Homo sapiens: one gene and its partner. The protein of the gene in region 1 purifies or fractionates together with the protein of each later gene. This does not show direct contact. Each region holds a gene or a part of one and is shown on either strand. Other genes may lie near its edges.

Evidence for each region.
Region 2: the proteins of GID4 (region 1) and MKLN1 purify together in Homo sapiens (affinity purification with western blotting; 2 studies listed by BioGRID and IntAct, with this or other methods). This does not show direct contact.

Annotation. Positions count from the first base shown.
Region 1 is NC_000017.11:18,037,078-18,053,127, reverse strand, and holds the start of GID4 (glucose-induced degradation protein 4 homolog), read right to left. Parts: upstream 13,721-16,050; 5' UTR 13,664-13,720; coding exon 13,226-13,663; intron 7,982-13,225; coding exon 7,922-7,981; intron 1-7,921. Other genes in the region: ATPAF2 (ATP synthase mitochondrial F1 complex assembly factor 2), read left to right, coding at 14,115-14,247.
Region 2 is NC_000007.14:131,388,679-131,404,728, forward strand, and holds part of MKLN1 (muskelin), read left to right. Parts: intron 1-205; coding exon 206-294; intron 295-8,588; coding exon 8,589-8,698; intron 8,699-10,559; exon of another isoform or gene 10,560-10,562; coding exon 10,563-10,755; intron 10,756-16,050. UniProt on the Homo sapiens protein: Component of the CTLH E3 ubiquitin-protein ligase complex that selectively accepts ubiquitin from UBE2H and mediates ubiquitination and subsequent proteasomal degradation of the transcription factor HBP1.

The DNA of each region.
Region 1 (16,050 bases):
GCAGGAGATTGCTTGAACCTGGAGGCGGAGTTTGCAGTAAGCCGAGATCACGCCATTGCACTCCAGCCTGGGCAATAAGAGTGAAACTCTGTCTCAAAAAAAAAAAAAAAAAAAAAAAGTAAATACTTTTTTCAGTGTTCTACATGTTCAGAGAAACTTCTAGTAATGAACTATACAAATGGTCCCTGAAGGTAGTCTTAGAATACCTTGATACATAGGGATACGTTTAATTCTGTCACATGAACTAAGAACAACTTATATGAGGAAAAACATATGAACTAAAAACAATTTATATGAGGAAAAACATATGTAAATCATGTCTGAATGTAAAAACCACACCGTGGAAAACGTAAGCAAGAAGCCATGTGCTGGCTTGGGTGCTTTGTTAATTGCTCTTTGTTCATGTGTTAATAAGTAGGCACCAATGATTTTAAAAAAGATTAATAAGACAAAAAGTTAACACCGTAAAAAGTCTACATTTCTCTGCATTTGTAGAAACCAACCAAGCACCCACCTCTCAGGCTACCTTGCCAAGCCCCTGGTGTCTGCCAGGAGCATGGTTATGAGAGTCACTGGCCTGGAAAACCACAGATTACAGTCCTAACATCAAGGACTGCAGAAGGCCCACGTTTTTCCTTCAGATCAGATGTAAGCCCCTCTTATTCTGCATCAAAAACCTCATTCTGATGGCTTTGCCACATCTACCAACCTGGCCTGCATGTAGTGTAGGACCTTCCTGAGAGAGGCTGCCACAGTAAAAGCCACTGGTGCAGAGGCTCCCAGGAAACAGAACGTCACCACCGCTGCAGGTGGCTCAGGAGGCCTGCTTTAGGATGACACCATGGAGGGGATCTGTTTCCTTAACAGTGAACTTAAAATATGATAAATCTAATACTGCCCCAAACCCACAACCCCCCTATCCTAACACTGTTGCTGGATTCTTCACATAAATATTTAAATACATAGACTGAAAAAATGAGAGAGGAGAAATTTTCCTAAATGTAAACCTAATTTTTAAGGTATAAGCTAACTTTTTTTTTTTTTTTTGGGGGGAGGGACAGAGTCTTGCTCTGTCGCCCAGACCGGAATGCAGTGGCACGATCTCGGCTCACTGCAACCTCTGCCTCCCGGGTTCAGGTGATTCTCCTGCCTCAGCCTCCCAAGTAGCTGGGATTACAGATGCATGCCACCACGCCTGTCTAATTTTTTGTATTTTTAGTAGAGACAGGGTTTCATGGTGTTAGCCAGGACGGTCTTGATCTCCTGACCTCATGATCCACCCGCCTCGGCCTCCCAAAGTGCTGGGATTACAGGCGTGAGCCACCGCACCCAGCCGGTATAAACTAACTTTTAATTATAATCTGTTCTAGGAAAGACTACTAAGGAAAAAAGTTCTCAATAAATCAGCACCTGCATTTGAGATTTTAAACTAGAAGCTATTTTTTTTTTTTTTGAGATGGAGTCTCGCTCTGTCGCCCAGGCTGGTGTGCAGTGGTACAACCTTGGCTCACTGCAACCTCCGCCTCCCGGGTTCAAGCAATTCTCTGTCTCAGCCTCCCGAGTAGCTGGGATTACAGGTATCCACCACCACGTGTGGCTAATTTTTGTATTTTCAGTAGAGACGGGTTTCACCATCTTGGCCAGGCTGGTCTTGAACTCCTAACCTCGTGATCCACCTGCCTCGGCCTCCCAAAGTGCTGGGATTACAGGCATCAGCCAACTACAAACTGTTTATATTATTTTTCCGAGTTTCAAGCTTTAATCTTTTTTCTGAACTTCCTTGAAAGGGATAGGATGAAATGATAAAGAGGTTTTAATACAAGGCCAAGCCTGGTGGCTCACACCTGTAATGCCAGCACTCTAGGGGGCCAAGACAGGAGGATCACTTGAGCCTAGGAGATCAAGATCAGCTTGGGCAACATAGTAAGACCCGGTCTCTATTTTTAAAAAAGGGAGGGGTGGGGAGGAGGTCCTAATATGATTAAAACACTTATGGTTTAAATCACTAGTTTTCTTAATGAATAATTCTGCATTGACTTCTTTGTAAACATACTTTAGGCAGTATATCAGGGTAACTACAGGGTACCCTCAAACTTTGAGAATTAAATAAAATAAATACCTAATAAATGAGATTCAGTGTGTACAGAAGTCACTGAAAAGATAAAATATTCTCAGAGCAGGAACAGGAAATTCAAGCACTTTATTACAGCCCAATGAGGGGTAATTTATAGAGCGGACGAAAAACCATGTCAGAAGAAAGGATATCGAGAAATGAATAACAGAGGCAGCAAAAGCAGGAGTGGGCATCCCTTGGTGGGTCTGGCTGTTGTCAGACATTTAAGTCCCCCAACTAATCCTCCCACTGATTCCAGGCTCACCCAAAACTGTGTGGTGATAGGTACCACGACTTTCCATGTAGACCTGTCTTCTGGAGGATTAACATTCAATTGGCCAATAAGTCAACAGGAACTTCTGGAACATACAGGAATCTCATTCTCTGACAAAAACTGGCACTTTTGTTTTTGTGAGTTTTGGTAGGTGTGACCTGTCTCCCTAGTTAAGCACAAGTCTAGCACAACTTCAGCTGGAGCTTCCAACCCTTCCAAACCCAAGTAATGAGTAAGTGGGGGGCCTGCCCATGGCCCCCAAAGGCTGGGCTCCCAGGTAACCCCTGAAAGCTGCTGGGTTCCCCGGAAAGGTCGCCTCTCTTGACTGACGGATGGCTCAAAAGTGCAAAAAGAATGTTATTTCATATTTATTCTTTACATTTCTAGAATTTCACTTCCAGAAGGCATGAAAACAAACTTTAAAGCTCCGTTTTGCAATGTGGCAATTCCTCAAAGAGTTAAAAACAGAACTATCATTCGACCCAGCAATCCCATTATTGGGTATACACCCAGAGGAGTATAAATCATTCTACTATAAAGATACATGCATGCAAATGTTCACTGTAGCACTATTCACAATAGTAAAAAGTGGGTCAACCTAAATGCCCATCAATGACAGATTGGATAAAGAAAACGTGGTATATATACACCAAGGAATACTATGAAGCCATAAAAAGAAATGAGATCATGTCTTTTGCGTGAACACGGGTAGAGCTAGAGGCCGTTATCCTTAGCAAACTAATGCAGGAACAGAAAACCAAATACTGCCCTTATAAGTAGGAGCTAAATGATGAGAACTCATGGGCTCAAAGAAGGAAACAATAGGCTCAAGCCTGTAATCCCAGCACTTTGGGAGGCTGAGGCAGGCAAATCACCTGAGGTCAAGAGTTCAAGACCAGCCTAGCCAACATGGTGAAACCCCATCTCTACCAAAAGTACAAAAAAAAATTTAGCCTGGTGTGGTGGTACATGCTACCTGGGAAGCTGAGCAGGAGAACTGCTTGAACCTGGGAGGCAGAGGTTGCAGTGAGCAGATATTGCACCACTGCACTCAAGCCTGGGCAACAGAGCGAGACTTCATCTCAAAAAAAAAAAGAAGGGAAGAACAGACAATGGGGCCTACTTGAGGGTAGAGGGTAGGAGAAGGGAGAGGAGCAGAAGAAATAACTATTCAGTACTAGGCTTAATACCTGGGTGACAAAATAATCTCCACAACAGTTACATAGGTAAACCGTGACATAAGTTTATCTATAGATCAAACCTGCGCATGTACACCCAAGCCTAAAATAAAAATTAAAACAAACAAACAAAAAAGCTGTGCTTGTTTGTGAATGTGAGGTAGCTAAGAGGCCATTTAGCTCCTTTTTTTTTTTTTTGACACTTATCTCCTTTTTTTTTTTTTTTTGACACGAAGTCTCACTCTGTTGCCGAGGTTGGAGTCCAGTGGCATGATCTGAACTCACCACAAACTCTGCCTCCTGGGTTCAAGCGATTCTCTTGCCTCAGCCTCCTGAGTAGCTGGGATTACAGGTGCCCGCCACCATGTCCAGCTAATTTTTGTATTTTTAGTAGAGATGGGGTTTCACCATGTTGTCCAAGCTGGTCTCAAACTCCTGACCTCAGGCGATCCAGCTGCCTCAGCCTCCCAAAGTGCTGGGATTACAGGCATGAGCCACTGTGCCTGGCCTATCTCCATTTTAGTAGATACTTTTCCATACTGTATACGTGAGGAAGGCAACTACTATGACTAAAACCCAAATTATAGTTTAATTAAAATAAATTAAAAATTTGATATTTTTGCCAGGCACGGTGGCTCATGCTTGTAGTCCCAGCACTTTGGGAGGCCAAGGTGGGTGGTTCATCTGAGGTCAGGAGTTCAAGACCAGCCTGGCCAACATGGTAAAACCCCATTTCTACTAAAAATATAAAAATTAGCCAGGTGTGGTGGCACATGCCTGTAATTCCAGCTACTCGGGAGGCTGAGGCATGGGAATTGCTTGAACCTGGGAGGTGGAAGTTGCAGTGAGCTGAGATCACACAACTGCACTCCAGCCCGGGTGACAGAGCAAGACTCTTCCTCAAAAACAAAAAATAAAAATAAAAAATTGATATTTTAACAAACATAAATGGAAAAGAAAAAAAACCCAAATACAGGTACAAAATTTATTCAAAGATTCATTGTAGTTTTCTGCATTTTACTATTATCTACGGCAACCATATACTAGACTTATAATTTTAAAAGTTATCAGGCTGGGTGCGTTGGCTCACGCCTGTAATCCCAACACTTTGGGAGGCCAAGGAGGGTGGACATTTGAGGTCAGGAGTTCGAGACCAGTCTGGCCAACATGGCGAAACCCTGTCTCTACTAAAAATAAAAGTTAGTTGGGCAGGGTGGCGCACGCCTGTAATCCCAGCTACTCGGGAGGCTGAGGCAGGAGAATCGCTTGAACTTGGGAGGCAGAGGTTGTGGTAAGGTGAGATCACACCACTGCACTCCAGCCTGGGTGACTGAGACTCTGTCTCAAAAAAAAAAAGTTATCGGCCAGGCGTGGTGGCTCACACATGTAATCCCAGCGCTATGGGAGGCCGAGACAGGCGGATCATGAGGTCAGGAGATCGAGACCATCCTGGCTAACACGGTGAAACCCCATCTCTACTAAAAATACAAAAAAATTAGCCGGGTGTGGTGGCGGGCACCTGTAGTCCCAGCTACTCGGGAGGCTGAGGCAGGAGAATGGCGTGAACCCAGGAGGCGGAGCTTGCAGTGAGCCGAGATTGCACCACTGCACTCCAGCCTGGGTGACTGAGCGAGACTCCATCTCAAAAAAAAAAAAAAGTTATCACATAGTTGCACAACTTTGTGAATACACTAAAAACCAATGAACTGTATACTTCAAATGGGTGAAATGTATGGTATGTGAATTATCTCAATAAAGCTACTAAAAAACATTATTTAAAAAGAATTCTTCTACATCTAAGGCCTGAGCAGGACTTGCTTTAACGCAACACCCCTGCAGCAGCATAACGTGGTCTATTTATTGCTGGACCAGGAACAGGCAACTCTGGGGAGGGTATGTGCTCATCGAGGCCACGCCATCTGCAGAGGTTCTGTTAAGAGCCTAGGGCTCCCCTTGGGTTAGCCCCCATTGAAGGGCCATTGTCAGTGCCCCCTCCTCAAAGGAGCCTGACTGCTGCTCTCGACTCACGGGGGCTTCCTAAAGGAAGGGCTACTTGTTCCCGATGGAGAGCTCAATGCCATTAGCATTTCTGTATACTTCTTCAAGATTTCGAATGCTACTTACCATTTCTGTGCAGCTTGTTATCACCCAAATGACTGGTTTTGGAGTCAGCGTTAACATTCCAATGCCTTACACACTTGCTGGTTTCCTTATGAAATTCAGTGTTTATGTTCTGCACCCAGTTAACTAATGTATTTGGCTACCTGAGAGTTGAGCATATTCTGTTTTAGTATCTTTTCTCCTACCACAAACCCAAAGGCTGGAATCCTGTATTTTGCTATCACTTCTACTCCTACTTGATTTGATACAATTCTCGAGTTAAAGAAGAAATACCTTTGGTCTCAACAACAAACTTCATAGGAGATCCTTAATCAGTTAAGCTTCTAATAGAAAAGCAGATAGGAACCAGGAGCCAGAAACTTGTCTTAAGACTGAGGCTCATCAGGACTTTACAAGAGAATCACATATTAGTACCATATTTGAGTCTGTCATTTTCTCTAACATTCTTTCCTTACCCCCAGAACAAGTCCACTGATTGTCTTAGACAGAGCAGGGATTTTTTTTTTTTTTTTTTTTTTTGAGACAAAGTTTCGCTCTTGTTGCTCAGGCTGGAGCGCAATGGTGCAATCTTGGCTCACTGCAACCTCCGCCTCCCGGGTTCAAGCGATCCTCCTGCCTCAGCCTCCTGAGTAGCTGGAATTACAGGTGCCTGCCAACATGCCCAGCTAATTTTTATATTTTTAGTAAAGATGGGGTTTCACCATGTTGACCAGGCTGGTCTTGAACTCCTGACCTCAGGTGATCCATCCACCTCAGCCTCCCAAAGTGCTGGGATTACAGGTGTGAGCCACCACGCCCGACCCCAATTTTTTTTTTTTTTAAAGAGAGAGGATCTTCCTAGGTTGCCCAGGCTGGAGTGCAGTGGCTATTCACAGGCATGATCACAGCACATTGCTGCCTTCAAATCCTAGCCTCAAGCGATACTCCAGCCTCAGTCTTCTGAGTAGCTAGGACTACAGGCACACAACACCATGCCTGGCTAATTTATTAAAAATTATTTGTAGCGACAAGGTCTTGCTATGCTGTCCAGGCTGGTCTTGAATTCCTGGCCCCAAGTGATCCTCCTGCTTTGACCTCCCAAAATGTTGGGATTACAGGTGTGAGCCACAGCACCCAGCCTGGAGCAGGAATTTTTAATTCTCAACTTCGCAGATGAGGACACTGAAAGAAGTTAAAGGTCACAGATGCAGGAAGGGGCAGAAGAAGAATGCCACCCCAGCTCCTTTCCACTGCCCCATCCAGCACAGCACTCTGTCCAAATACTGCTGGATCATCAGACCATGAGAGCTGACAAAGGCCAGAGGCCCCCTGCAGCTAGGTCCAGCCTGGGCATTCCCAGCATTCGGAGGGCCAGTCCAGCTACCTCCTTCCACTTCCTGTTTCCTTGCTAATGGAAAAGAAAGGATGCTCCTCCTTGCTTTCTAAAGTCCCAGGAGTTCTGAGGTTTAAAAACTTGGTTCAAAGAAAATAAAATACTCTGCACAGCAGGTACTTCTGCTGGAAACTAGATGGTCACTTCCCCTTTTTTTTCTTTCTTTTTTTTTTTTTTTGAGACAGGGTCTTGCTCTGTTGCCCAGGTTGGAGTGCATGGTGATCTTGGCTCACTGCAACCTCTGCCTCTCTGGTTCAAGTGATTCTCTGTGCCTCAGACTCCCAAGTACCTGGAACTACAGGTCTGTGCCACCATGCCCGGCTAATTTTTTTTTTTTATGTTTAGTAGAGATGGGGTTTCACCATGTTGGCCAGGCTGGTCTCCCTACCTCAAGTGATCTGCACACCTCAGGCTCCCAAAGTGTTGCGATTACAGGCATGAGCCACCGCGACCAGTCAGTAACTTTTCATTGTTCCAATTAACTAAGAGGCTTAAAGAACTTAAAAGCTCATTTTTTATAGGACTGATGCTTATCTCAGAAACTGTTAAACTTATGATGAGGGTGGCAGCTATATTCTTATTATTTTTTCCCCCAAAAAGGATTAAAAATAAAATCAATAGTGTTGGTTGTGACAATTATGATGTACTTATAAACTTTTCTTTAAAACATTTGTGAATCTGTACACTTCTCAACAGGACACACTGAAACTGCCTGTTTTATGTTCCCTATACAGTAGCAATGCTCAGGAGTAGTCTGCTTTAATTAGGCCTCAAGGAGTTGAGACCGCCTGCCCTGAACCCCAATGAGCCTGTGGAGCACACCACAGACTTTCTAGTGCTGGTTTGTGTGAGCAAGTGCTTACCTCAGTAAGGCCTTTAATCTTCAAGTACCCACAAAGGTAAGAGTTCCCCGTGTCCACGTGCTGAAAAGAAAGGATACACAGCCTGTCACAAATAGATAAACTTACTAGGGGACATGCAGGAGGGTACTCTGCAAATCCTGTGAGGCCAGACTGGTGGTCAGTGAACACCCAGGGCAGTCCAAGGCTCACCCAGTCTCTGGAATCTTGATAAGTTCTCCCCACACACATGCCTGTTCTGCCAAAGCAAACTGATCCCAAGACCCTCTCAACTTTCTTCAGCTGAATATCATGAGACTGAAGTGTCTTTCTGAAATGGGGTGCCCACTCAAATTCATTTTCTGTACTATCTTCAACACACGTCTCCCGGTCATCTAGAGACCTTGAGCATTGCTGGGCACAGGGCCTCTGTCTCTGCCTGTACACGTGGTGTCATCCCTAACCTCAGGCTTGACTTTCTTTCTAATGTCTTTCAAGCCTTTTTCTATTTCTGTATTGCTCAATCATTGGTCTAGGAGGTCTGCTCCTCTTCTAGTTTTTACACTAAACATCATCCTGCATTATCTCTTTATGAAATGGGCAGACTGTTCAGAAATGGCATCTTATAAAGATTTATGTGGTATAAACTTCAGTTATGAACCAAAATGCCAACCAAAAGTCTGACTATATTGTGAATGTTCACTCTGTGCATTTTATATATGGATGCTGTGTTTCTTAATGAAAAGAGTCAGGAGCCTAAAATAAATAGAAATAACAGGCATAGTAGACTTTGAGGTTTAGCAGTCACCAATTACTGGTTGCTGAGACACTGCCGGATGCCTACCCAACAAACAATTTCCTCCTTTTTCACGCTGGCAGGGTCCAGTTTTTGCTCTGGTACCTACCTACCACGTAAGACTTGGTCAACCTGATGGATCTAAGGCACACAGGTGTCCCTATCCCCTTGCAAGTCATGTATTTAGGGGTGAGTGACCCATTTCTGGCTCATCAGATGTGTAAGTCTCCTGAGTGCATCTGTGAAAAATCCCTGGCTTTTGAAGAGGCGCATGAGGAAGAAATGGCTTTTTTGTCCCCTAGTGGTGACAGTATCCGCATGGAGTGTCCAGTCCTGGGGGAGACATCTAGACCACAGGGGAGAAACAGGCCAGGAAATGCTGAGGATGGTAGTTAGAAAGATGGAAAAAACTGGGCCCATCGTAGGCCTCTGAATTAACCAACCTGAAGCCACGTCACCTCAAAAATCCTCCTGATGTGAGATTTCACCCAAATCTATACAGACTCATTCTGAATAGGGAGTTTCAGATTTCATGACAATTGGATTCACTTACAAGGTAAATCCTTGAATTAAAGCAAACCAAGTACAAGGGTACCTGTGGTACACTGAGATTTTAATGTTAAGTGAGGTCTTATTTCAAGAAATTAGAATAGTTTTGTGGCATTTATCAGATTTGTGAACCTGATTACTTCCAATTATACCATAAATCAAATACTAAGCCATGCTTAAAAACTGTAATGAACTTAGTCAACCAGATGATGTCAGCACCAAAGCAAATGAACTTCAATGAAGCCAAAGTGCCTTCACAGTTTGGTGCTGGTGACAAAGGTATTCCCTGTGAAAACTGCCAAAGCATTTTAAATATCCTCATCTGCTGACCTTGGCACTGGACATTATCTAAAACAGCTAATCCACGCTAACATGGTTCAGCAAAGAACTTTTATTAAAGGACACATAATTCTAACCTGAGTCTTTAAATTTCATGTATGCAATTCTCATTGAATTCAATATAGTTTGGAGTTTCACAGCTGCTGAAAAGTGTATCAGGTGGCAAGGATACTTGCTAATAAGATTAAAAATTGAAATGTAAATTGGCTAACATTTTGCATGGATTATCACATGCTCAAGAATCAGAATTTCAGCTTGGCCTCCATTCAACCAAGCGTCTCTCTACTCTGCCCAAATTGATCTTGATAATGGTTGGTGAACTCAAATACACCACAACGCATACAGCTTTTACCAAACGGCAGGCGAGCATCTCAAGAAAGATAACAGGGCACGTGTTTAGCAAGAAGGTGTCACAGCACAGCTGTGTCCAACGGCTGTTCTTTTAAATATTCCTTTCACAGCGACCAGGGCTCCCTTCTACTGCTGGCTTCTTAGATGGCAGAGGAGGAAAGAGGAGTCACAGTAAGTGCGGGGTGGAGAGGAGACCCAGTCAGAAACTCACAAAGGTTTGAGGAACTCTTTACACTAGAATCACAGAAAAGAAAGTACTCCAAAACAACAACAACAACAAAAACACAAGAAAAGATGCACAACAGCACAGTCATTATAGAAATTCAAATCAAGACTACAGTGAGAGACCACTTCAAAAACACTAGGATGGCTACAACAAAAAAGATGAACAGTGAGTGTTGGCGGGGATGTGGAGAAACTGGAACCCTCACCCACTGCTGGTGGAAATGTAAAACAATGCAGGGCCAGTTTCTCAAAATGTTAAAACCCAGTTACCATGTGACCCAGCAATTGCACTCCCAGGTAGTTATCTACCAAAGTGAAATATACATCCACATAAAAACTTGTACATAAATGTTCATAGCAGTATTATTCATAGTAGCCAGAAGTGGAAACAACCCAAATGTCCATCAACTGATCACTGTATAAACAAAATGTTGTATATCCATTCAATGGACAATTGTTACAATGAACAATGCAAAATAAAAAGGAATATAAGTGCTGATACATATTACCATATGGATGAACCTTGAGGACATTATGCTAAGTGAAGGAAGCCAATCTCAAAAGGACAAATACTATGTGATTATATGAAATGTCCAGAATAGACAAACAACAACAAAAATAGATGAGCAGTTGCCTAGGATTGGAGTGGGGGTTATGGCTAAGGGTTACATACAAGGTTTCCTTTTGGGGTGATGAAAATATTCTAAAATTAGGTTGTGGTGGTGGTTAAACAACTGTGAATATACTAAAAACTATTGAATTGTACACCTTAAATAAGTGAATTCTATCTAAATAAAGATACAAAAAGAAAGAAAGAAAACAAAACAAAACAAACAAAAAGAAGCTGAGTTATAAAAGGCAGAAGTATTTTAAGTCTAAGAAGGCTGTGTCTGACAAACTAGTCCTGGCTGAAAAACCAGATGATGGGGCAATTCACATGCCACTGACTAGTCGTGATGATGACCAAGCAGCTCACCAATCCAGATGTAGGGCAGCATTCATTGGCATGACCACCACCCCCACCATCAGACATCTTACTCAAGTGGCTCCCAGCCATCCACCAGGTTTCTGCTCTGGGCTGCCTGAGACCTATCAGCCCTGCCCCAACTCAACCACTGCTTCCCCTGGTTCATGATTCTCCTTCTGAAAGGAGCTCAGAAGTGATACCCTAATGACAGAAGGGAGCAGCAGTTGCTGCAGTAGCCAAAGCAGACTCCCCTTTGACGCCTGGCTATCTTGCCAATTGTCCCCTACTACATCAGAAACCATCAAACTGAACAACAGGGACAAATCCAAGATCATCCCAAACGTGACCCACCCAGGGATCTCACCTCCAGAATTCTATGACTAGGTGCAAAACAAACCGAAAAACCCCTGTACCTTCATACTCGACTCTCACATTTTAAGAAGAGGATCACTACATTAGGCATACAGTTATGAAGACAAAAATATTTCAGCCACAATCGTATTTCCATTATAATAACTATCGTGGCTCATGATAGAACTTTACAGCCCAAAGATATGATTAACATGACGATGCTGTTTCAAGTAAGCAGAGAAAATGATTTATTCCCACAAAGCAGTATGAGAATAAAAGAGTGATGAGTGCTCCGCAGTTAGCAGAAAGAAAAGGCACCCTCATTGTCTTTTGGATGGGAGACCTACTCTTCAGAAGTGAAACTAAGATTTGTTTTAAATGACCAAAAGGAGAGCTTGAGGAATAAATATACTGTACATTCCACCCTCACACCCCGGGGGGTGGGGCGGGGGGGAGGCAGTGGGGCAGCACACAGTGCCTTTCAGAGGGACAGGTGTTTGGAGGGGCTTCTGGGAACAGCCTGGCAGATGAGGTGTCAGACTAAGGAAAAAAAGGGCAAAGGGAAGGGGAAAGGGGTCCTTAGTCAGGCAGGGGTAGGTATAGAGGAGGAAGAGTTTTGTGGGGAGGGGAGATAAAAGAGTATTCACCACTGCCACTCCATTTCAGCTGGCAAAAAGTGTCAAGCCTGAGAGGAGTGAGGTGTGGGAAAGGCCCAGACAAGTGAAGCTGTACTTCCGAAGCTGATCAGGGACTGGCAGCAGGTATTCAGGAATCCAGGTCAAATGGGGGGAGGCGACTGGACATGAACTAAAATTGGGTGAGTTAGATTTCCCAGTACATGGGTACCAGAGACTAAGAGGAAGCCCTGTGCCTGTGTAGAGAAAAGTTAAGAACAGGAAAGAGGGTCCCCTGGAACCAGGATCGAGCAAGACGAAGGTATGGGGTGGGGAAGTCTGGATAGAGGCCAGGAAGACTGGGAAAAGACTGCAAATGGTCCCAGAGCAGGGGCAGGAGGCCTGGGGGTGGAGAAGCTGGAAGGAGCTGGGTGCCTGGACCATGAAGAGACAGAAGCAGTGAGTGGAACAGGGGACCCAGGAGGCAACATCCCAACAGACTGTGAGCAGCACTCAGGGAGTGAGTGCCTGGTCTTGAGGTGAGGCCAGGGCCTGACCAATCAGTTGCGGGTTAGGTGCTCCCCCGTCTGGGGGTCTGATGAAGCCCTCCTAAGGAGATCTCAGGAGGAGGAAGACCCCAAGGTCTGCGGATTCCTGGAACTGAGGAAGGGGCAGGAGGACATGTCTCAGGTCTGAGAGAATCTGACGTGGGCCCAGACATGGGGAGGGTCCCAAGTCTGGTGAAACCAATGGAGAGTTCTTCAGGGTCTGAAAAGGGCTGGTGGCAGTCCCTGATCTAGGGACGACAGGTCATGGGGAGGAAGGACCCAGGCCTTCTCCGAGTCATGAGGGGCTTCCGGATCCCAGACGGGCCGGTCACGGGCTTCAAGTCTGGGAGTGTTCGGGGTCCGCCAGGAGCCGGTCACGACGGGCTCTGGGTCCGAAGGGGCAGGTCAGGGCTGGGGCTCGGAGAGTGTGAGACACAGGCTGGGAAGGTCCCGGGTGGGAAGCGCCGGGTGCAGGAGGCCCCGGCGGCGAGGGCCTGTTCCGCGGCTGCGGGGTCGAGGAGCCGAAGCGGGCACGGCCCGTGAGCGCCGCGAGGAGGCCCTCGGGCCCCGGCCCGGCCCGGCGCTCACCTGCAGCACCACCTCTACGTCGTACGAGTTCCCCTTGCTCTTCTGGTGGCCGCGGAACTTGGAGCCGCTGTAGAGCAGGCTGGTGGCCACGCCGGGCTGCTGGGTGTTGATGGGCGGCGGCGGGATGAGTGAGGCCGCGGAGGCAGCGGAGGCACCGGCCGGCGGGGGACACTCGGTGCGGACCGGCATCGCGGGGTCCCCCGGAGCCAGGGCTGGGGGGAGTGGGAGAGGAACCGCCGCCGCCGCGCGGGAGCCGAGGAGGGTGGCGGGGAGGGAGAGGCCGGGGCGCGCACGCGCGGGGTGGGGGCGGGAGGGGCGACCACCCGCCCGCTGCCTGCGGAGCAAGCGCTCCGGCCGCCACCGGGACCCAGGGACCTGCGAGCAGGGCCTCCCAGTCCTGAGCTGGGTCCCCCTCCCGACTTGCCCTCGCGCACACATACACACACACAGACACTCACAGACACACAACACACAAACACACACAGACACACACACACCCCGCCCCTTCCGATTGGCTCAGGCGAGCCTGGGGGGCGGGAGCAGGCTCAGGCGGCGCTTCCGCCCATTGGCGGGAGGAGAAAACACGTGGCGCGGTGCGCGAGCGGCCCGCTGGGACTTGTAGTCTCCTCGCCGAGGCGCGGCGTGGAGGGGGCGGGGCGAGGTGCGTTTGTGATGCTGATTGACTGGGGGTGTGCGCAGGAGGCGCGCGGCGGCGACGGCGCGCCGTAGGTGTCATGCGGAAGATGGCGGCGTCCAAGGGAGGTTGAGGGCTCTGAGGAGGCGTTGAGAGGTTTCCGTACAGCCCGACCGTGCGGCTTTGGGGATCCCATCGCTCTGTGTTTCCTGCTCCAGGTTTCGCGTCTCGCATCTTCCCAGACCCTCGGGCGCGATGTGGAGGAGCTGCCTCCGGCTGCGGGACGGGGGACGCCGTCTCCTGAATCGGCCGGCGGGTGGCCCCAGCGCTTCTATGAGTCCGGGGCCAACCATCCCGTCTCCAGCCCGGGCTTACGCCCCGCCGACAGGTAAGACCATGACATGTTCTTTTGGGTTGGGGCCGAGCTGGGGTAAGGTGGGCTTCGGGCTTCGGCTGTGCAAAGCGAAGTAACTGAGGCAGGGTTCAGGCTCATGAGGTTATGCAGGCCAGTCAGGTCTTTTTACAGATGAGAAAGTGAAGCCCAGACAAGGGCAGACGACCCGAGAGGGAACAGCGAGTCACGCACGATACAGTAATTGATATTTGGCCTGTGCAGGTTTTCTCAAAGCTTATGGCTGCCCTCCCTTTAATAAGGAAAGCAGGTGTCATCTTTGTTTTCAAAAGGGGAAGTTTGGGCTCTGAATCAGGACTTCGTCTGGGTTACAGGCAGACTCTCTCAGAGGTTTGTGGTGTCTGTCTGACTGTTTTCCGTGTCTCCACTGCCCAACACAAGACCTGCCCAGAAGGGACCTAGAACCTGGGCCTTCATTCCTCCATCCCGGGCACTTCTGCTGCAGGTTTCCTGACTTTCCCTCCTACCACAACCTCTGCCATCTGCAGCCTTCTCTCCTAAATAGAAATTGACACCTCCACCTCTGACTGTGGAGTCACCTCCACCTCCAACTCTGATGAAGCTTAGAAGTAGTGGCTCTTTCATTGCTGATGGTGAGTGGTGTCAGGGTAAGAGTGAGAATGACTCATTTCAGTGAATGAAGAGCAGTAACACCCTCCCACCATTCAATTAGTTTTATTGTGCTGGAGGCAGGAGGCACGGTTGTCTTTAAGACCCACCTGTATGTATTGGTAGAGAAGCTCAATTAAAGAAGAAAAAGGCCCACCTGAATGATGTTCACTGTTCATTGCAAAAGGTTATAATATTCTGATTAAATTGTGGTTTATAATATCCTGATAAGGGACATACAAAGAAACTGTGAGAACACAGAGAATCGCTTACTCCCATCTTGGGGATGTTCAGGGTTTAGAATGGGTCTTGGGTGAAAGGGCGTTTGTTTAAGCTGAGCCATGATAGATGAGTAGGAGTTCAGCAAAAAGGTGGGAGAGTGTTGGGTATCTAGAACGTGTCCAGGGTGACAGCAAGGTATGAGGGACTTTTCCCTGACACTGCCTGTTTTAGAAAATCCAGAACTTCACAGGCAGTTTGGCATTGTGGCAGGAGTGCAAATCTAGGATCTGATGCTGGCTGAACCTCTGAGGTCTGTGTGATCTTGGGCATGCAACTACTTCCTCATTTTTCTCCATGCGTTGAAGTACTAGGTTGCCTTTGAGGATCTTTCTGGCTGTCAAGTTCTTTTTTTTTCTTCTTCTTCTGTTTTTTTGTGTTTTTTTGAGACGGAGTCTCCTCTGTCACAGAGGCTGGAGTGCAGTGGCACCATCTCGGCTCACTGCAACCTCCGCCTCCCAGATTCAAGCGATTTTGTGGTCTCAGCCTCCCAAGTAGGTGGGACTACAGGCGTCTGCCACCATGCCCTGCTAATTTTTGTATTTTTAGTAGAGATGGGGTTTATATTGACTAGGCTGGTCTCGAACTCCTGACTTTGTGACCCGCCCACCTCGGCCTCCCAAAGTGCTGGGATTACAGGCGTGAGCCACCGCGCCCAGCCAAGTTCTATAACTTTATAGAAATGGGGAAGGGGGCTGGATGCAGCAGGGAGCTGAAGTTTCACCTGCAGGACTCAGGGGAAGGGCCTGGAAATGGGCCATGAAGGGCCAGTAAAGAAGAGAAAGGAAGGGCATCCCAGGGAGGCATAGCAAAGGGGACACATTCAGGAGTTCACCAAGTTGGCAAAAAGCAAAGGGTTAATTAATTTATTTATTTACGTATTTATTTATT
Region 2 (16,050 bases), on another chromosome or scaffold:
TTAAGAGAATCCAGTTATAATGCTGTTGATTTGAATGTACCGGTTTTGACCTATATGCCCATGTTCAACTACTTGTTTATATTGTCTTGGTCATAATATTTTGAGCATGAGTTTAAACTTAAAACCTGAGTGTGCATTAATTCGTGTTCTAGTGCATTTACTAAATTATGAAGTCAGATTTAATAGCCTTATTTTTTTCCCACAGTGGCTTAAAGAATGATTATAACAAAGAAACATTCACCTTGAAGCATAAAATTGATGAACAGATGTTCCCTTGTCGATTCATTAAAATAGGTAAGATTTTAGCATTCTGAAATAGAAACAAATTCTTGATATCATCAGTCAGCAAACTATAGCCCATAGACCAAATCCTGCAGGCCTCTTGTTTTTTTAAATACAATTTTATGGGAATATTGCTGCGCTGGTTTGTTTACATATTGTCTGTATCTGCTTTTGTGCTACAAAAGTAGACTTGAGTAGTTGCAAGAGACCACAGAGCCCCTTAAATTTACTCTTTGGTCCTTTACAGGAGAAGTTTGCTGACTTCTGCTTTATATAAATTCATTACTAAGTGGCAGTTATTTCAAGTGGAATCTTTTCCAAATGTTTTCTCATTTGAAAGTTTTCTTAGATTTTATGGGATCTAGTGATTTGATTGCCTTAATTTTATGGAAGGTTTATCACTTATACTAAAACAATAATATTCTAAAACCAAATACTGATAAAATCCTTAAGGCAGTATATTATGGTTATTATCAGTTGTGTTCTTTTATTTTATTTATTTATTTTTTTTAGTTAAATGCTGGTCAAACCCATTAAATTGATTTAATGACCCATCGATAGGTTGCAAATCACTGTTTGAAAAATATTACCTTAAGGCATGTATTTATTTAGCAAGTATTTTAGCTTAAGAAAGTATTTATAATGCATCCTCAAAATTAGTATTTTTCAGGTGATTTTGTTTCCTATAGGATTTATTATTTAGAAGGTAGGGAAATTGAGCAATTAAATCCTGGCTAACATGGTGAAACCCCATCTCTACTAAAAATACAAAAAAAAATTTAGCTGGGCGTGGTGGTAGGCGCCTGTAGTCCCAGTTACTCGGGAAGCTGAGGTGGGAGAATGCTGTGAACCCAGGAGGCAGAGTTTGCAGTGAGCCAAGATCATGCCACTGCACTCCAGCCTGGGAGACAGAGCGAGACTCCATCTCCAAAAAAAAAACCAAAAAAAAAATACTTCTAATTTATAACCATGTTGCATACTTTTGAAAATATTATATTGATATGGGGATTAAAGTGAATTAGATACTTTGAAGAATAATAATAAAAGCCAGAGTCCACATTTTGATTTGGGAGAATAATTACTCTTTTGGAGCAAACATAGTCATTGTTTGCCAATCTATCAAGAGTTGCTGCCATTTTGTTTTGTGACTCAAACAGTTCTGTAGGGCAAAAGAATATTTGAGGTCTTAAGAAAAACTGCTTATATACAGAAACTGTTTTTGGAACAATTGGATTCCAGTATGTCACTTTGTAGTAATTATAGTTTCTGTTGTTATAATAAATACTTATAAATTAAAACCTATATTCTGTTTTCTTATAAGAATTTATGAGCAAGCAAATTTTAAAAATAAATTTAACTTTCGGTTATTTACTTCTTTTGCACTGGGTAATGTTTTCATCAGTATTTAGAGTTATCAGTTCCTAAAGACCTTTGCATAGCTTTAACAATTTTATGATTTTATGTTGCAAGTATACAAGCAGTGGAAATTGGAACCTTTTCCAGCCCTGTCAGCCTTTTTTCCCCTTTCTTTTCTTTTTTGCTGAGTATTTGAATATGTGCACTTAAAAAATTTCCCCCCAGCTTTACTAAGGTATAATTGACAAATAATAATTATATATATTTATGGTTTACAATGTGATGTTTTGACATATGAATACATTGTGAAATTATTAAATCAAGCTAATTAACATATCCCTCACCTCACATACTTAACATTTTTTTATGGTGAGAACATTTAAGATCTACTCTCTGAGCAATTTTCAGTTATTACTATAGTCACCATGCTGTACAGTAGATCTCCAGAACTTATTCTTCCTGCTTGACTGAAACTTTTTACCCTTTCACCAACAGCCACGCATTTCTCTCATCACCTTTTTAATTATAGGGCATAATGATGTCTTTTACTTGATCTAGGGTTAGTTTAATGGTATTTAGGCAAAATGTTAATTGGAGCTTTCCAAATAATAGTAGACACTTATTAGCCCATTTTCTATTTAGGATATTAATATATAGATAACTTAGTATGTCTTACTTTTCTCTTAAAATATGTTAATACCGGTCAGCAGTGTATTTGCTTCCCAACCCTTTCCCAAGCATTCTCTTAAGAACTTTTTTTTTTAAGTAATATAAGGAAAATATGGAACTAAAAGGCCGTATGTTAGGTCATATTTTTAGTTTGTCATATTTTCTTCAAAAGTTATTCCAGTAAAGGACTTGAATGATGTATAGCTCTCTTTTGATGTTAGTTTAGCACAGACGTTTATTTCATTTAGGTAAATCGTTAGAATTTGACTTAAAAAAAGCCTTTGAGTATTTTACATCTGTGTTCTATAGTGACATGTTTGAAAGATCTTGCTTTATTTAAAAAACAAGTTAATGCTTAAACAGCAAAATTTCTCAATTTAGTCAGCCTTCAATTATTCACAGTAATGGAGGGGAACAGAAGCAAGGCTAACACAATGGCAGATAATCTCCAAATTGTTTATTGACATGTAACTATAATAATTTTCATTTATAATGAATGTAGCTTATTAAGCAAATTGAAGTAAGTTTGGTCATAAATTGTTAACAAGGAAAATAGCCCACATTTCTACTGTGTGGCAGGGGTTAACTTTTAAGATCTGTTGTGGATAATTCAGAGTACCAGTAAAGCTGAACTGATGTCATTGGACTGCCTTCCTTCAGGAAAGTTTTACTTTCCTTTCTTAAGTTACCTTTTGTATAAAATGAGGATGTTAATGCTTTTTCTGTCTAATGGTAGGATAGGTAGCTATATTGGATATTTTCTTGAATTCTGTTCCAGTTTGTGGATCTGTGGTTTTAATTTAAGAGTACATTTATGGAAGAAATGATTGCATTTTGGATATCTCTTTTGCACATTTTCGTACTTATATTTTTAAAGTTTGTGTTTACATGCCTTCTTACATGTAGTATTCTAGGGACTTTGATGGGACTTAGTGTAGAAGGACAGTTGGCCTTAGAAAGAAGCTTGGTTTTAGATAAGACCTAGAGGTGAAAGGAAAATTTAGTAACAGAGGTGAGTTATTAATTGGGAGACTGGATTCCAGAGGGCAAGTTAAAGTTTGGGAAGGGAAAGCTCAGCAGGAGATTAGATCAGAGGAAAGTAAACATAAAATGGGTTGAGGGTATTGGTTACAGATGGCTCAAAGGGTTTACATTCTGATTTATAGCCACAATAACAGCTGTATGAGGAAATCAGGGGTAGGTGAGGGCAAAAAGAGGTACAGGGTCTTGGAAGGATTCAGGGGGAGTCTTGGTTTTTGGTAAATGGAGAGATGTGGATTTTTGTAAAGGAGTCAGCTGCAGCCTGGATGATTGTGGAGACTTCAGAGAGCGGCTTTAACTCTGGCTGGATGCAGCATGAAATCTGAGCATGAAGTCTGGGTATTAGTTCCAGGAAGCCCTTTAGGAGAGCATGTGGAAAAGTGACATTTTAGAAGTATACTATTAAGAGGAAAATTAATATAATAATAATAGATAATAACAGCTAACATTTATTGAACACTTAGTATGTGCCAGTTACTGTGCTAAGTATACTTATGTCATTAAATCTGTAGTAGAATAGTAGATGCACTCTTTCAGAATAGTTAATCTTGAATTTTTAGGATCTCTCAGAACCTCTTTTTTTTTTTTTTTTTGGGAGGTGGAGTTTCACTCTTGTTGCCTAGGCTGGAGTGCAATGGCACAATCTCGGCTCACCACAACTTCCTGCCTCCTGGGTTCAAGCGATTCTCCTGCCTCAGCCTCCTAAGTAGCCGTGATTACAGGCATGCGCCACCATGCCCGGCTAATTTTGTATTTTTAGTAGAGACGGGGTTTCTCCATGTTGGTCAGACTGGTCTTGAACTCCCGACCTGAGGCGATCCACCCGCCTTGGCCTCCCAAAGTGCTGGGATTACAGGCGTGAGCCACTGCGCCTGGCCTAATTTTTTTTTTTTTTTTAAGAGGCAGAGTCTTGCTCTGTTGCTCAGGTGGCACAATTAGAGCTCAGTGCAACCTCCAGTTCCTGGGCTCAAGCCATGTTCCGGCCTCAGCCTCCCTAGTAGCACACCACCACACCTGGCTAATTTTAAAAACAATTTTTTTGTAGAAACTGAGTCTTGCTGTCTTGCCCAGGCTGGCCATTTTATGAAAAAAGGTGACACAGGGATGTTGATTATATTCATGTCTGATTGTCCAATGGGGAAAACTGATGACTGAATCCTAGAATACAAACTGCTAGCCTTGGGATATGTATTAGGAGTTTCTAATTCTTTTATTTGATGAGGGAGGCATCTTTTATCAGGGAACAAAGAACACGTGCCTGGAGCTTTAATTCACTTTTAGATTTCTTAGTGTTCTAATATGCATTATTAGTATTGTTAATGCTACCAAAAATCACTGGCGTTTGAAGTGAGTGGACATCATTCTGCTCATTTTTTACATACCCTTTTAGTCTGTTGAAAATTAATTATATTGTTTATTCATCTGTAATATATATGCCCATTGGCAAGATAACTTCATGATTTACCTCCTTCCTCTAAAGGTATTCTTTAAAGGTATTAAAAATTATAACTAATTTTATTCTAGAAATATTTCTATTGGACCATTGGGTAACAGATTAAATTTCACTGCAAGTGTTTTAAAAGGTTTTTGTTTTGTTTTGTTTTGTTTTGTTTTTTAAGAGACAGGGTCTTTCTCGGTTACCTAGGCTAGAATTTAGTAGTGTGGTCATAGCTCACTGTAACACTGAACTCCTGGGCTCAAGTGATCCTTCATCTGGCCTCCCAAGTAGCCAGGACTACAGGCACATACTATCATGCCCAGCTGATTTTTAATTTTTTTTTGTAGAGATAGGGTCTCACTATATTTCCAGGCTGGTCTTGAACTCCTGGGCTCAAATGATCCTCTTGCTTCTGCCTCCCAAAGTGTTGGGATTACAGACATGAGCCACTGCACCAGGACCAATAAATGAATTCTTAATGAGACTTGGACCTGGAAATCTCTAATATTTTATGTCTGGTGACATATATAGACTATATTCTTGGTGCTTTTAGTTTAGAATCATTATTTTATTCTGACTCTTATACTACTAGATGGTTATTGCTATGTGATTTAGTAGATAAACTTTTAAATGACACTGCTACATAAAGAAACACTAAAACAATAAAGATAATTTAATATTTGTTGTTAAAAAAAAACTTTTTGAAATGTGTGTTGTTTACATACATAAACAGAAAGGCATATTAAATATCCCAGCATTCCTTCATACATCCTTATGGCTGGTTGCTACTGCCTGTGTTTTTATTCACACAGCTTCCTTTATATCAGTGGTCCCCAACCTTTTTGACACCAGCGACCAGTTTTGTGGAAGACAGTTTTTCTGTGGACCCAGAAGTTGGGGCAGGGTATGGTGGAGAGATGGTTTTGGGATGAAACTTTTCCATCTCAGATCATCAAGCATTAGATTCTCATAAGGAGTGCACAACTTAGATCCCTTGTATTTGCAGTTCATGATAGAGTTTGCAGTCCTTTGAGAATCTAATGCCAACGCTGATCTGACAGGAGGCAGAGCCCAGGCAGTAATGCTCCCTTAACACACTGCGCACCTCCTGCCATGCGTCTGGGTTCCTAACAGGCCAGGGACCTGTACAGGTTTGGGCCTGGGGGTTTGGGACCCCTGTTTTAGATGACAAAAATATATAAAAGTATCATACCCCATACATTTTCCTTATTCAGTCGGATATTGGAAATCATTACGCCTGGTATCAGCTATTCTGGATATTCTATTTTGATGCTTCATCAAAACTCTACAAATGTTAGTTTCTTAAAGATAGTTGCATTATTGATTCTGAAACTGCATCAGTGAATCTGTTGTTACATTAAAATTCACTGGTCTATCTTGGACTTTTTACCCAGTGGTCTGTCTTGGACTTTTTACCCAGGTGTGATTTTGTAACATTCATTGGTTATTTAGAAAATATGGTTCACTGAATTACACAGATCTCCCAAATGTTGAAACACTTCATTATGTAATATTTTAAAAATCACATTTATTAATATCACATCTAATCTCATTTAAAAAAATCTAAGTGTTGGGAATCAGTTAAGCTCACAGTGGTGGGTACTTATCTTCCAAAATTCTAATTTTTCTCTTGAAAGCTTGGTTTTTATCCTTGACAGCAAATATCGTTAAGTATTTTCCTTGAAATAACATGTAAATGTTTGGCAAATACCCAAATCTGAATAATCATAGGTTGTCTGTTTTTCTTTCAAGAATAAAATGGCATTCCATGAAAAATAAATTGATTTTTAAACTCACAACTTAAATAATTGTACAGGTCCTTTCCTTGAGATAACCATTGTGGTTTGGTACACAACAAAAATGCTTTATATGCAAATCTCATTTTGTCACACAGGATACTAGACAGATGTGTACTTGATGGGAATTTAATAAAATTAATTTTTCTGTGCCATTGGTAAAAATTATTTTTATTTTATTTTATTTTATTTTATTTTATTTTATTTTATTTTATTTTACTGCCAGTGTATGGTGGTGAGGCATACAGTGCACCTTGTACTTACTGAGCACTAATAGTACTTTTTGGTGCCATTAGTTTGGTACCAAGGTGCTAGCAGTTTTACACACCATTGCTTTTGTACCATTAGTGCAATGTTGCTATTATTAAAAGGCTAGAAAAGTGTTTATTATGTTATTTTGAAAAATAGTTGTTTTGAAAAATAACTAGTGTTGTTATTAAAAAAAAAAGTAGTTTTGACTACGTGGGACCTCTGGAAAGACCATTGGGATTTTGATTGACATGATGTTAAATTTATAATTAATTGGAGAGAGCTACACATTTACAATATTGAGTTTTCCTATATAGGAACATAGTATGTTCTTTCATTTATTCAATTATTCACTAAAATTTTATATTTTCTTATAAATATTGCGTATTTTAAGTTTATTCTGAAGTATTTTCAGCTTTTTGCCATTATAAATAGGACTTTTTTGAGGTATATTTTCTAATTGGTTATTGTAGGTATAGGAAAAGTTGATTTTTGTGTGTTTACCTTGTTTACAAATAAAAAGTTTTTCAATTGAATATATATATATATTTTTTTCCACTGAGACACAGTCTTATTCTGTCGCCCAGGCTGGAGTACAGTGGTGTCATGGCAGCTCACTGCAACCTCCACCTCCTGGGTTCAAGTGATTCTCTTGCCACAGCCTCCCAAGTAGCTGGGATTATAGGCGCACGCCACCATGACTGGCTATTTTTTCTATTTTTAGTGGAGACAGAGTTTCACTGTGTTTGCCAGGCTGGTTTTGAATTCCTGGCCTCAAGTGATCCTCTTGCCACGGCCTCCCAAAGTGCTGGGATTACAGGCTTGAGCTACTGCTCCTGGCTCTCTTGAATTTTTTTAGGTAGACAGGTCATCTTTAAATTACAATTCGTTTTTCTTAATTTGTTTGTTTGTTTCCTTATTGCACTGGTTGAGACCTCTAATTAGTGACAAATAGTAGAGATATTGGACATCTTTGTCTTGTTCTGACTTGAGTGGGAATATTTAGTATTTTCCCAGTAGGTTTAATTTTTAAGGTTTTTGATGCTTTTTAAAAAAATCTAAGGAAATTTTTTATTGCCTTATATTGCTTATATATTGAGGGTTTAAAAATAATAATGTATTTAAGTCATCAAATGTGTTTTTTCTTTTATTTTGTTAACGTGGTAGATTATATTAATATAGCTCCTATTATTTATTGAACCATCATCTTTCCATTCCTGGAATGAGATCTGTTTGGTTACAATGAAAATCTGATAGAATTTTTTGCAACTTTTCTCCTTTTAATTTGTATTTAAATATGTATTCATAGCTGTGATTGGCCTTAAGTCTTTTTTCTTCTGATTTGGATTTCAGGGTTGTGCCACTGATAAATAATTTCAGTCTCTTTCAGTGTTCTGATGTAGACTAAATTCTAAAGTAATTTTTTGCTGCTTGTACATTTGATAAAATTTACCTGTTAAATCATCTAATTCTGGTGGCATTTATTTGGGGGTAGACATGTGCACATTTTTAATTTATCTTACAGTGTTTTTATTAACTAAGGAAATCTTATGGTGGCATGGGTCATCTGTTTCGTTTTACTGTTGTAGCCTTAGCACCATGCTAGTCATATAAAAGATGCCCAGAAAATTCGTTGAATGAATCCTTATAAGGTTGAATAGTGCTTTTACTTTGCTAAAGTTTTATTTGAACTGTGTTAATATTTTTCTTCTTCTTTTTGTTTTTTCTCCTTAAAGTTCCACTCTTGTCCTGGGGACCCAGCTTTAACTTTAGCATCTGGTATGTTGAACTTAGTGGCATTGATGATCCTGATATAGTACAACCTTGTCTCAACTGGTATAGCAAGGTAGGACTGTGTTTTAAATCCTGACTTTAATGCCTATAAAAGGAGAAATATGTCAATCTCTTATCTTCATTGAGAATAATTTAAAATATTCAAAATAATAATAACAACAGTTAGCTAACATTTTATTAAGCACTTCCAGTCTGCCAGCTTTTAAGGAATCCTGATAACTCACTTAGTCATTATCACTCTATGAGACAGGTGCACTTATTATCCCCATTAGTTTATAGATGAAGAAATGAAGAACAGAGAGATTAAATAGTTTGCCTAGGATCACACAATTGTAAAGTGTTTGAGCCAGTATATGAATTCAGGCAGTTTGGCTCCACAGTCTGCTTTTATGTTATTATACCCATTTGACTCTGAATTTTGTTTTTTCACTTGTATTCATATAAATACTTAAAACATAGTTTTTAGTGGGATAGTTTTGCAGCCTAATGGAAAATTTAAGATGTGGATGTGATTTAGACTCCTAAAGTAGTCAACAGGGTTAAAAAATACTGCTGTTTAATATAACTGTAATATATATTGTTACATGGTAGTTATGATAAGTCTTTTTTAGAGGCCAAGAGTAAGTTAATTATAGTTAACTAATTATAATTAAGTTGTTAATTAATTATAGTTAATTATAACGTGTAAGGATTAGGTGTTTAATGACCTTTTATTAGTTAAGTCAGCTATCAACTGATTTGTTTCAAATCTTATACATCTTCCTAAACACATTATTTTCTTGCCTTATTAAAGGGTCATGCCTATAAGTAAATCATTGTTGTTTGATTATCATGCAGGCTTCCATGTCATCTGTTTGTTTGAATAGTGGTATACTTAGGAAGTTTGAGGTAGTCCCAGAACATATTCCTGAAGTTGAGATTTTTTTAAAAAAATCCTTTTTATAAGATTGTATTTTTGGCATCTATCCTATTAGGGGAAAATTTTAATAAATTAAGTGCCTGCTTTTTGGATTCCAGTTAATTGAGATGTCTACTTTATAGCTGCTTAATAGATGAGGTAGTTCAGGCTTAGAAAACAATTAAATTGGGCCGGGCGCAGTGGCTCACACCTGTAATCCCAGCACTTTGGGAGACCAAAGTGGGCAGATTGCCTGAGGTCAGGAGTTCAAGACCATCCTGACCAACATGGTGAAACCCCGACTCTACTAAAAATACAAAAATTAGCTGGGCGTGGTAGCGCGTGCCTGTAAGCTCAGCTACTTAGGAGGCTGAGGCAGAATTGCTTGAACCTGGGAGGCGGAGGTTGCAGTGAGCTGAGATTATGCCGCTACAGTCCAGCCTGGGAGACAGAGCAAGACCCTGTCTCAAAAAAAGAAAGAAAAAAAAAAAGATTAAATGTCTCTTTTTGATGATTTTTGAGTCATAAAATGTGTTTGTAAATTTGAAATATCTGTATACTTGATACTTGTCATTCAAGTAATAGTTTATTTTTAAAAACCAAAAATAGCATAATATAATTTATGTGGATTATTTAATGTTCTTTTGTGCTCTCAGTACCTGCATTGTAATGGGATTAATAGATGCTATGGAGTTATAATTTTTACAGTATTAAGTGGAGTTTAAGAAATAGATGTTCTCCCTTTCTTCAAAGTTGAGGCTCTGGAATTAGGTTTGGTTTAATAACTTTTGGCTACATATTTTGTGACCTTGAGCAAGTTATTGGAACAGGCCAAGCTTTAGTTTTGCTAGTTAAAAGAGCCAAATAATGATACCTAATGAATCAGGTTAGTAAACTGCTTGGCACATAGTGTTAATAAATGCTCAGTGTAGATTAGTTATTTTTACTGTTGTTATTGTTTCCTACAGTATCATCTAACCAAATCTCTTCTTTCCATACTTACTCTGTGTTCTAGTAGTACCGTGAACAGGAAGCTATTCGCCTTTGCCTAAAACACTTCAGACAACACAACTATACAGAAGCTTTTGAGTCACTGCAAAAGAAAACCAAGATTGCACTGGAACATCCCATGTTAACAGATATTCATGACAAGCTGGTGTTGAAGGGTGATTTTGATGCTTGCGAAGAGTTGATTGAAAAGGCTGTAAATGGTATGAAACTTAGATTGGTTATTAGGGTAAATTCAAGTACATACGGGAAACTTTTTCTCAAAAATAATATAGGCTTATGCCAGTTATTACTGTAATTTTTTTTCTTGGTTTTTTACTCGGTTAAAGATTGTTATCTCTTTGGATTAGGGACTTCTTTCATGTAAAATAGATCCATGATGTAATGAGACTTAAAAAATTGAAATGTACTTGAACTCACATATAAATTTAAGTTGTCATCTTGGGAAACCATGCACTTACAAATGATTAACTAGCATTAAACTGTATCAGAAATAATATTTTGATATTGGTAGCCAATATTCATTAACAGTGTAGTTTTGAGGAGAAGGGGGGCTAGATAATAAAAAATGTTATTAGTAAACAATTATATATAAGGAACAAGGAGATTTGTATTGAAAACAACTTCCTTGTGGTGTGAATGCTATATAATTGCTGATTTTCTTGTGTGACCTGTAGTCTGGCTTTGAAAGAAATGTGAATAGTTGAACATCTGTATTATCTCCCAGGGTATTGGCTTTGGAGGGTAACACTCATTTGGATTTTTAAGGTCTGATGTGTTTTGTTATTTAAACTAAAAAGGGACTCTGTTGTTGCTTATAGTATGACTTTTTTTTTTAATCTTCCTCAGTAACTTTCATAGTGACAAACAACAGAATAGTTGCACAATATAAAACTTGTGGAATTGAATTTGGTGCATCCTTTATAGGAAGAAATAAGAAATAATAGATTATTCAGTGGTTTGCTCTCATTTTAATTTTATCACTGTTATTATCGTCTATTATTAGGTATTCATATTTATCAGATATTGGGTAGCTAAAAAAAAACCAGACTTGTACTGCCTTGAGTTTATAAATTTAAAGTTAACTTAAAATGAATTGCTTTGAGCTCCACTTTTTGAAATATGACAAATCTGCTTCTAAGCCTTGTGCATTGTTATTGCTTACTTGATTGATGATGATACTTGCAAATAAATGATAGGTATGTTTGAAATTGAGTATATTTTGGAGTATAAACAAACAAATAACTAATCTCTTAACAGACTTTAAAATGCTACCAATAAAAAAAAAATATATATATATATATATATATGCCATTTCTAGGAGTGAATTCTGTGGGTTTTTTTTAACCTCATAAGATGAGGGAGGCATAGGTAATTTTAGGGCTTTTTTGTTTGTTTCAGATATTTATCAGTAAGGCATTTGATACCATTTTGTGAAGGGAAAGCAAAACAACAGCCACAGGCAACTCTACAGTTAATAAGCTAAAAACAGTTATATTTTAAAGGTCTCTTTAGTGACGTACTCAGTTGGTTAAGATTAGCTGATAAAAATCTTGTGCAGTTTTGATATCTACAGAGACTTAACTTATCCTTTGGCTCTAGAAAGGAACCAAGTTTAGAGAAATTAGTAGTTGCTCAATTCTTGAAACTTACAGCCACATCATAGTTTTTGTACTGTGAATACTATGGGCTTTCTAAACTGGCCTGGAACACTGTTAGTTAATAAACATTCCTTTCAGGGTTGTTCTCTTTGCTTCTGATCTCATTGATGATGATTTGTTGGACAAATAAGGAAGTAAACAGTGCAGAGTTTTTTGGCTTCTGCTCTATTAAAAACATAGCAGAGAAGGACAAGAAGTTCCTGCCTGCTAAATAGGAAGATCTAGGGAATCAAAAGAGTCTCTGTCAAGCTTCTTGTAATGGAGGATACAAAAGCTACTTTTAGTATTTTTAGTATATTACTTAGTATGATCTTTAAGTATTTTCTGTATTTTAAGAAAGTGTAAGGCTCTATTTATTTCTGTAATAGGCTTTTTGTTTGTCTAGAAACATCACTGTATTTACATTTCATTTTATTAGAGGTGATTTTGGAACCAATAATTGCTACTACCTCTTTGCCCATGCAGGATCCAGTGATGATAGGCAAAAGTAATCACCTAGGGACAGGAATGTTTTACTCAGACATGTAGAGATTGTACTGAAATCCACCCTTTGCTGAGCTTATCTTATTTGCTATAGAAAGAAAAATTTTCTTTTGTGAGATAAGGGAAGGATAAAGTTTAATAAGGTAGTCATAAAGTTTCAACCTGAAATCTCTACCTTTCTCCCTTTGTCTTTCCCTGCTTCTTTCTTTTTTCTGTTTTCCTGGTTTAAAAAATAATCTCTCCACTCTGGTTTTTTGGATTGTGCAGTAGTTGTTAATTATAGGCATATCTTGGAGATATTGCAGGTTTGGTTCCAGACCACTGCAGTGAAGTGAATGACACAATAAAGCAAGTCACAAATTTTATTTCCTTTGCATGTGCATATAAAAGTTATCTTTCCACTTTACTGTAGCCTCTTAAGGTACAGTGGCATTATTTCTTTAAAAAAAATGCATATACCTTAACTTAAAAAATGCTTTATTGCTTAAAAAATGCTAATGATCATCTGAGCCTTCAGTGAGTTATACTCTTTTTGCTAGTGAAGGGTCTTGCCTCAGTATTGATGGCTGCTGGCTGATAAGGATGGTGATTGCTGAAAGTTGGGGTGGCTGTGACAGTTTCTTAAAATAAGACAAAAATGAAATTTGCTGCATCAATGAGTTCTTCCTTTCACAAAAGATTTATCTGTGGTGTGCAATGCTGTCTGATTGCATTTGACCCACAATAGAACTTCTTTCAAAATTGGAGTCAATCCTCTCAAACCCTGCTGCTGCTTTATCAGCTAAGTTTATGTAATATTCTAAATCCTTTGTTGTCATTTCAACAATGTTCACAGCATCTTCATCAGGAGCAGTTTCCATCTCAAGAAACCACTTTATTTGCTCATTCATAAGAAGCAATTTCTCATCCATTCAAGTTTTATCATGAGAGTGTAGCAGTTCAGTCACATCTTCAGGCTCTACTTCTAATTCTAGTTCTCTTGCTATTTCTACCACATCTGCAGTTAATTTCTTCTTCTGAAGCCTTTAACACTTTCCACATCATCCATGAGCATTGGAATCAACTTCTTCCAAACTCTTGTTTATGTTGATATTTTGATCTCTTCCCATGAATCATGAATGTTCTTAATGGCATCTAGAATGGTGAATCCTTTCCAGAAGGTTTTCAATTTACTTTGCCCAGATCCATCAGAGGAATCACTGTCTGTGGCAACTATAGCCTTACAAGATGTGTTTCTTAAATAATAAGATTTTCTTGAAAGTCTAAATGACTCCTTGATTCATAGGCTACAAAATGGATATGTGTTAGTAGGCATGAAAACATTAATATTCCTGTGTTTCTCCATCAAGCTCTTGGGTGACAGGTGCATTGTCAGTGAGCAGTAATATTTTGAAAGAAATCTTTTTTTCTTTTTCTGAGCAGTAGGTCTCAACAGTGGGCATAAAATATTCAGTAAACCATTCTGTACACAGATGTGCTGTCATCTAGGCTTTGTTACTCCATTTGTAGAGCACAGGCAGTAGATTCAGCTTAATTCTTAAGGGCCCTAGGATTTTTCAGAATAGTAAATGAGCATTGACTTCCGCTTAAAGTCACTAGCTGCATTAAACCCTTGCAAGACAGTCACACTATCCTTTAAAGCTTTGAAGCCAGGCATTGACTTCACTCTAGCTATGAAAGTCCTAGATGGCACCTTCTTCCAATAGAAGTCTATTGGAATGTTTTGTCTACATTGAAAATCTGTTTAGTATAGTTACCTTCATCAGTGATCTTAGCAAGATCTTCTAGATATTAATAACTTGCTGCATCTTCTATAATACATCAACACTTGTGGCTTTACTTTGCACTTTTATGTTACAGAGGTGGCTTCTTTCTTTAAACTTCATGAACCAACCTCTGCTAGCTTCCAACTTTTCTTTTGCAGTTTTCTGACTTCTCTCAGCTTTCACACACTTGAAGAGAGTTAAGGCCATGCTTTAGATTAGGTTTTGGCTTAAGGGAGTGTTATGACTGGTTTAATCTATCCAGACCGCTCTAACTTTCTCCATATTAACAATAAGTCTGTTTTGCTTTCTTATCAGTCATGGGTTCACTTGTAATTTCCTTCAAGAACTTTTCCTTCTCATTTACAACTTGGTCAACTTTAGTGCAAGAGGTCAACTTTCAGCCTATCTTGGCCTTTGACATGCCTTCCTCCCTAAGTTTAATTATTTCTAGTTTTTTTATTTAAAGTGAGAGGTTTGTGTTGAACACTTAAAGGCCGTGGTAAAGATATTAAATGGCCTAATTTCAGTATTGTTGCATCTCAGGGAATAGGGAGGCCCAAAGAGAGGGAGAGAAATGGGGGAACTGCTGGTTTATGGAGAAGTCAGAACACACACAACATGGTGCCTCAAAACAATTACATTATTAACATCAAAGATCACTGATCATAGGTCACTGTAACAGATATGACAGTAATGAAAAAGGTTGAAACATTACGAGAATTACTGAAATGAGAGAGAGACACAAGTGAAGAAATTCTGTTGGAAAAACGGCATCCATAGACTTCCTTCAATTTGTAAAAAACACAGTATCTGTGAAGCGTGGTCAAGCAAAGCATTATAAAGGCATATGTATGTTGAATTATCTTAATTGATTTTCTGTTTTTAATGCAATTTTGTATTCCTTTTTACAAACCCTACTTGATAATGGTGTCTTACTCTTTTCAGGTATTGTATTTGATCTGCCACCTTTTTATGAAGTATTTTTGCATATATTTGTGTATGTAAGATATTGGTCTGCAGTTTTCTTTTAATGTGCATGTCTTGTTTTGTTATCTTTTGGTATGTTTGGGTACTTCCAGTCTTATAGAATGGGGCAGGAATCTAAAAGTGTTTGTGTAGAATGAGTAGTAGCTTGGTAGAATTTACTAGTGAAGGCAACTGGACCTGAAGTTACCTTTGTGTGGAGGTTTTTGTGTTCTTTTGGCAGGGTCTCTCTTTGTCACCCAGACTGGAGTACAGTGGCATGATCAGTTAACTTTAGCCTTGAACTCCTGGGCTCAGGCTATCCTCCTGCCTCCTGAGTAGCCTGGACTATTGGTGCATGGTATCATGCCTGGCTAATTTTTAAAAATGTGGAGATGGGGTCTCGCCATGTTACCCAGACTGGTCTTTAACTCCTTGCTCAAATGATCCCAAAGCACTGGAATTTCGGGTGTGAGCTATTTGTTTGTTTTCTCTTTTTCTTTTCTTTTCTTTTTTTTTGAGACAGGGTCTCTCTCTGTTGCCCAGGCTGGAGTGCAGTGGCACAGTCACGGCTCACTACAGCCTTGACCTCCCTGGGCTCAAGTGATCCTCTTACCAAGCCTCC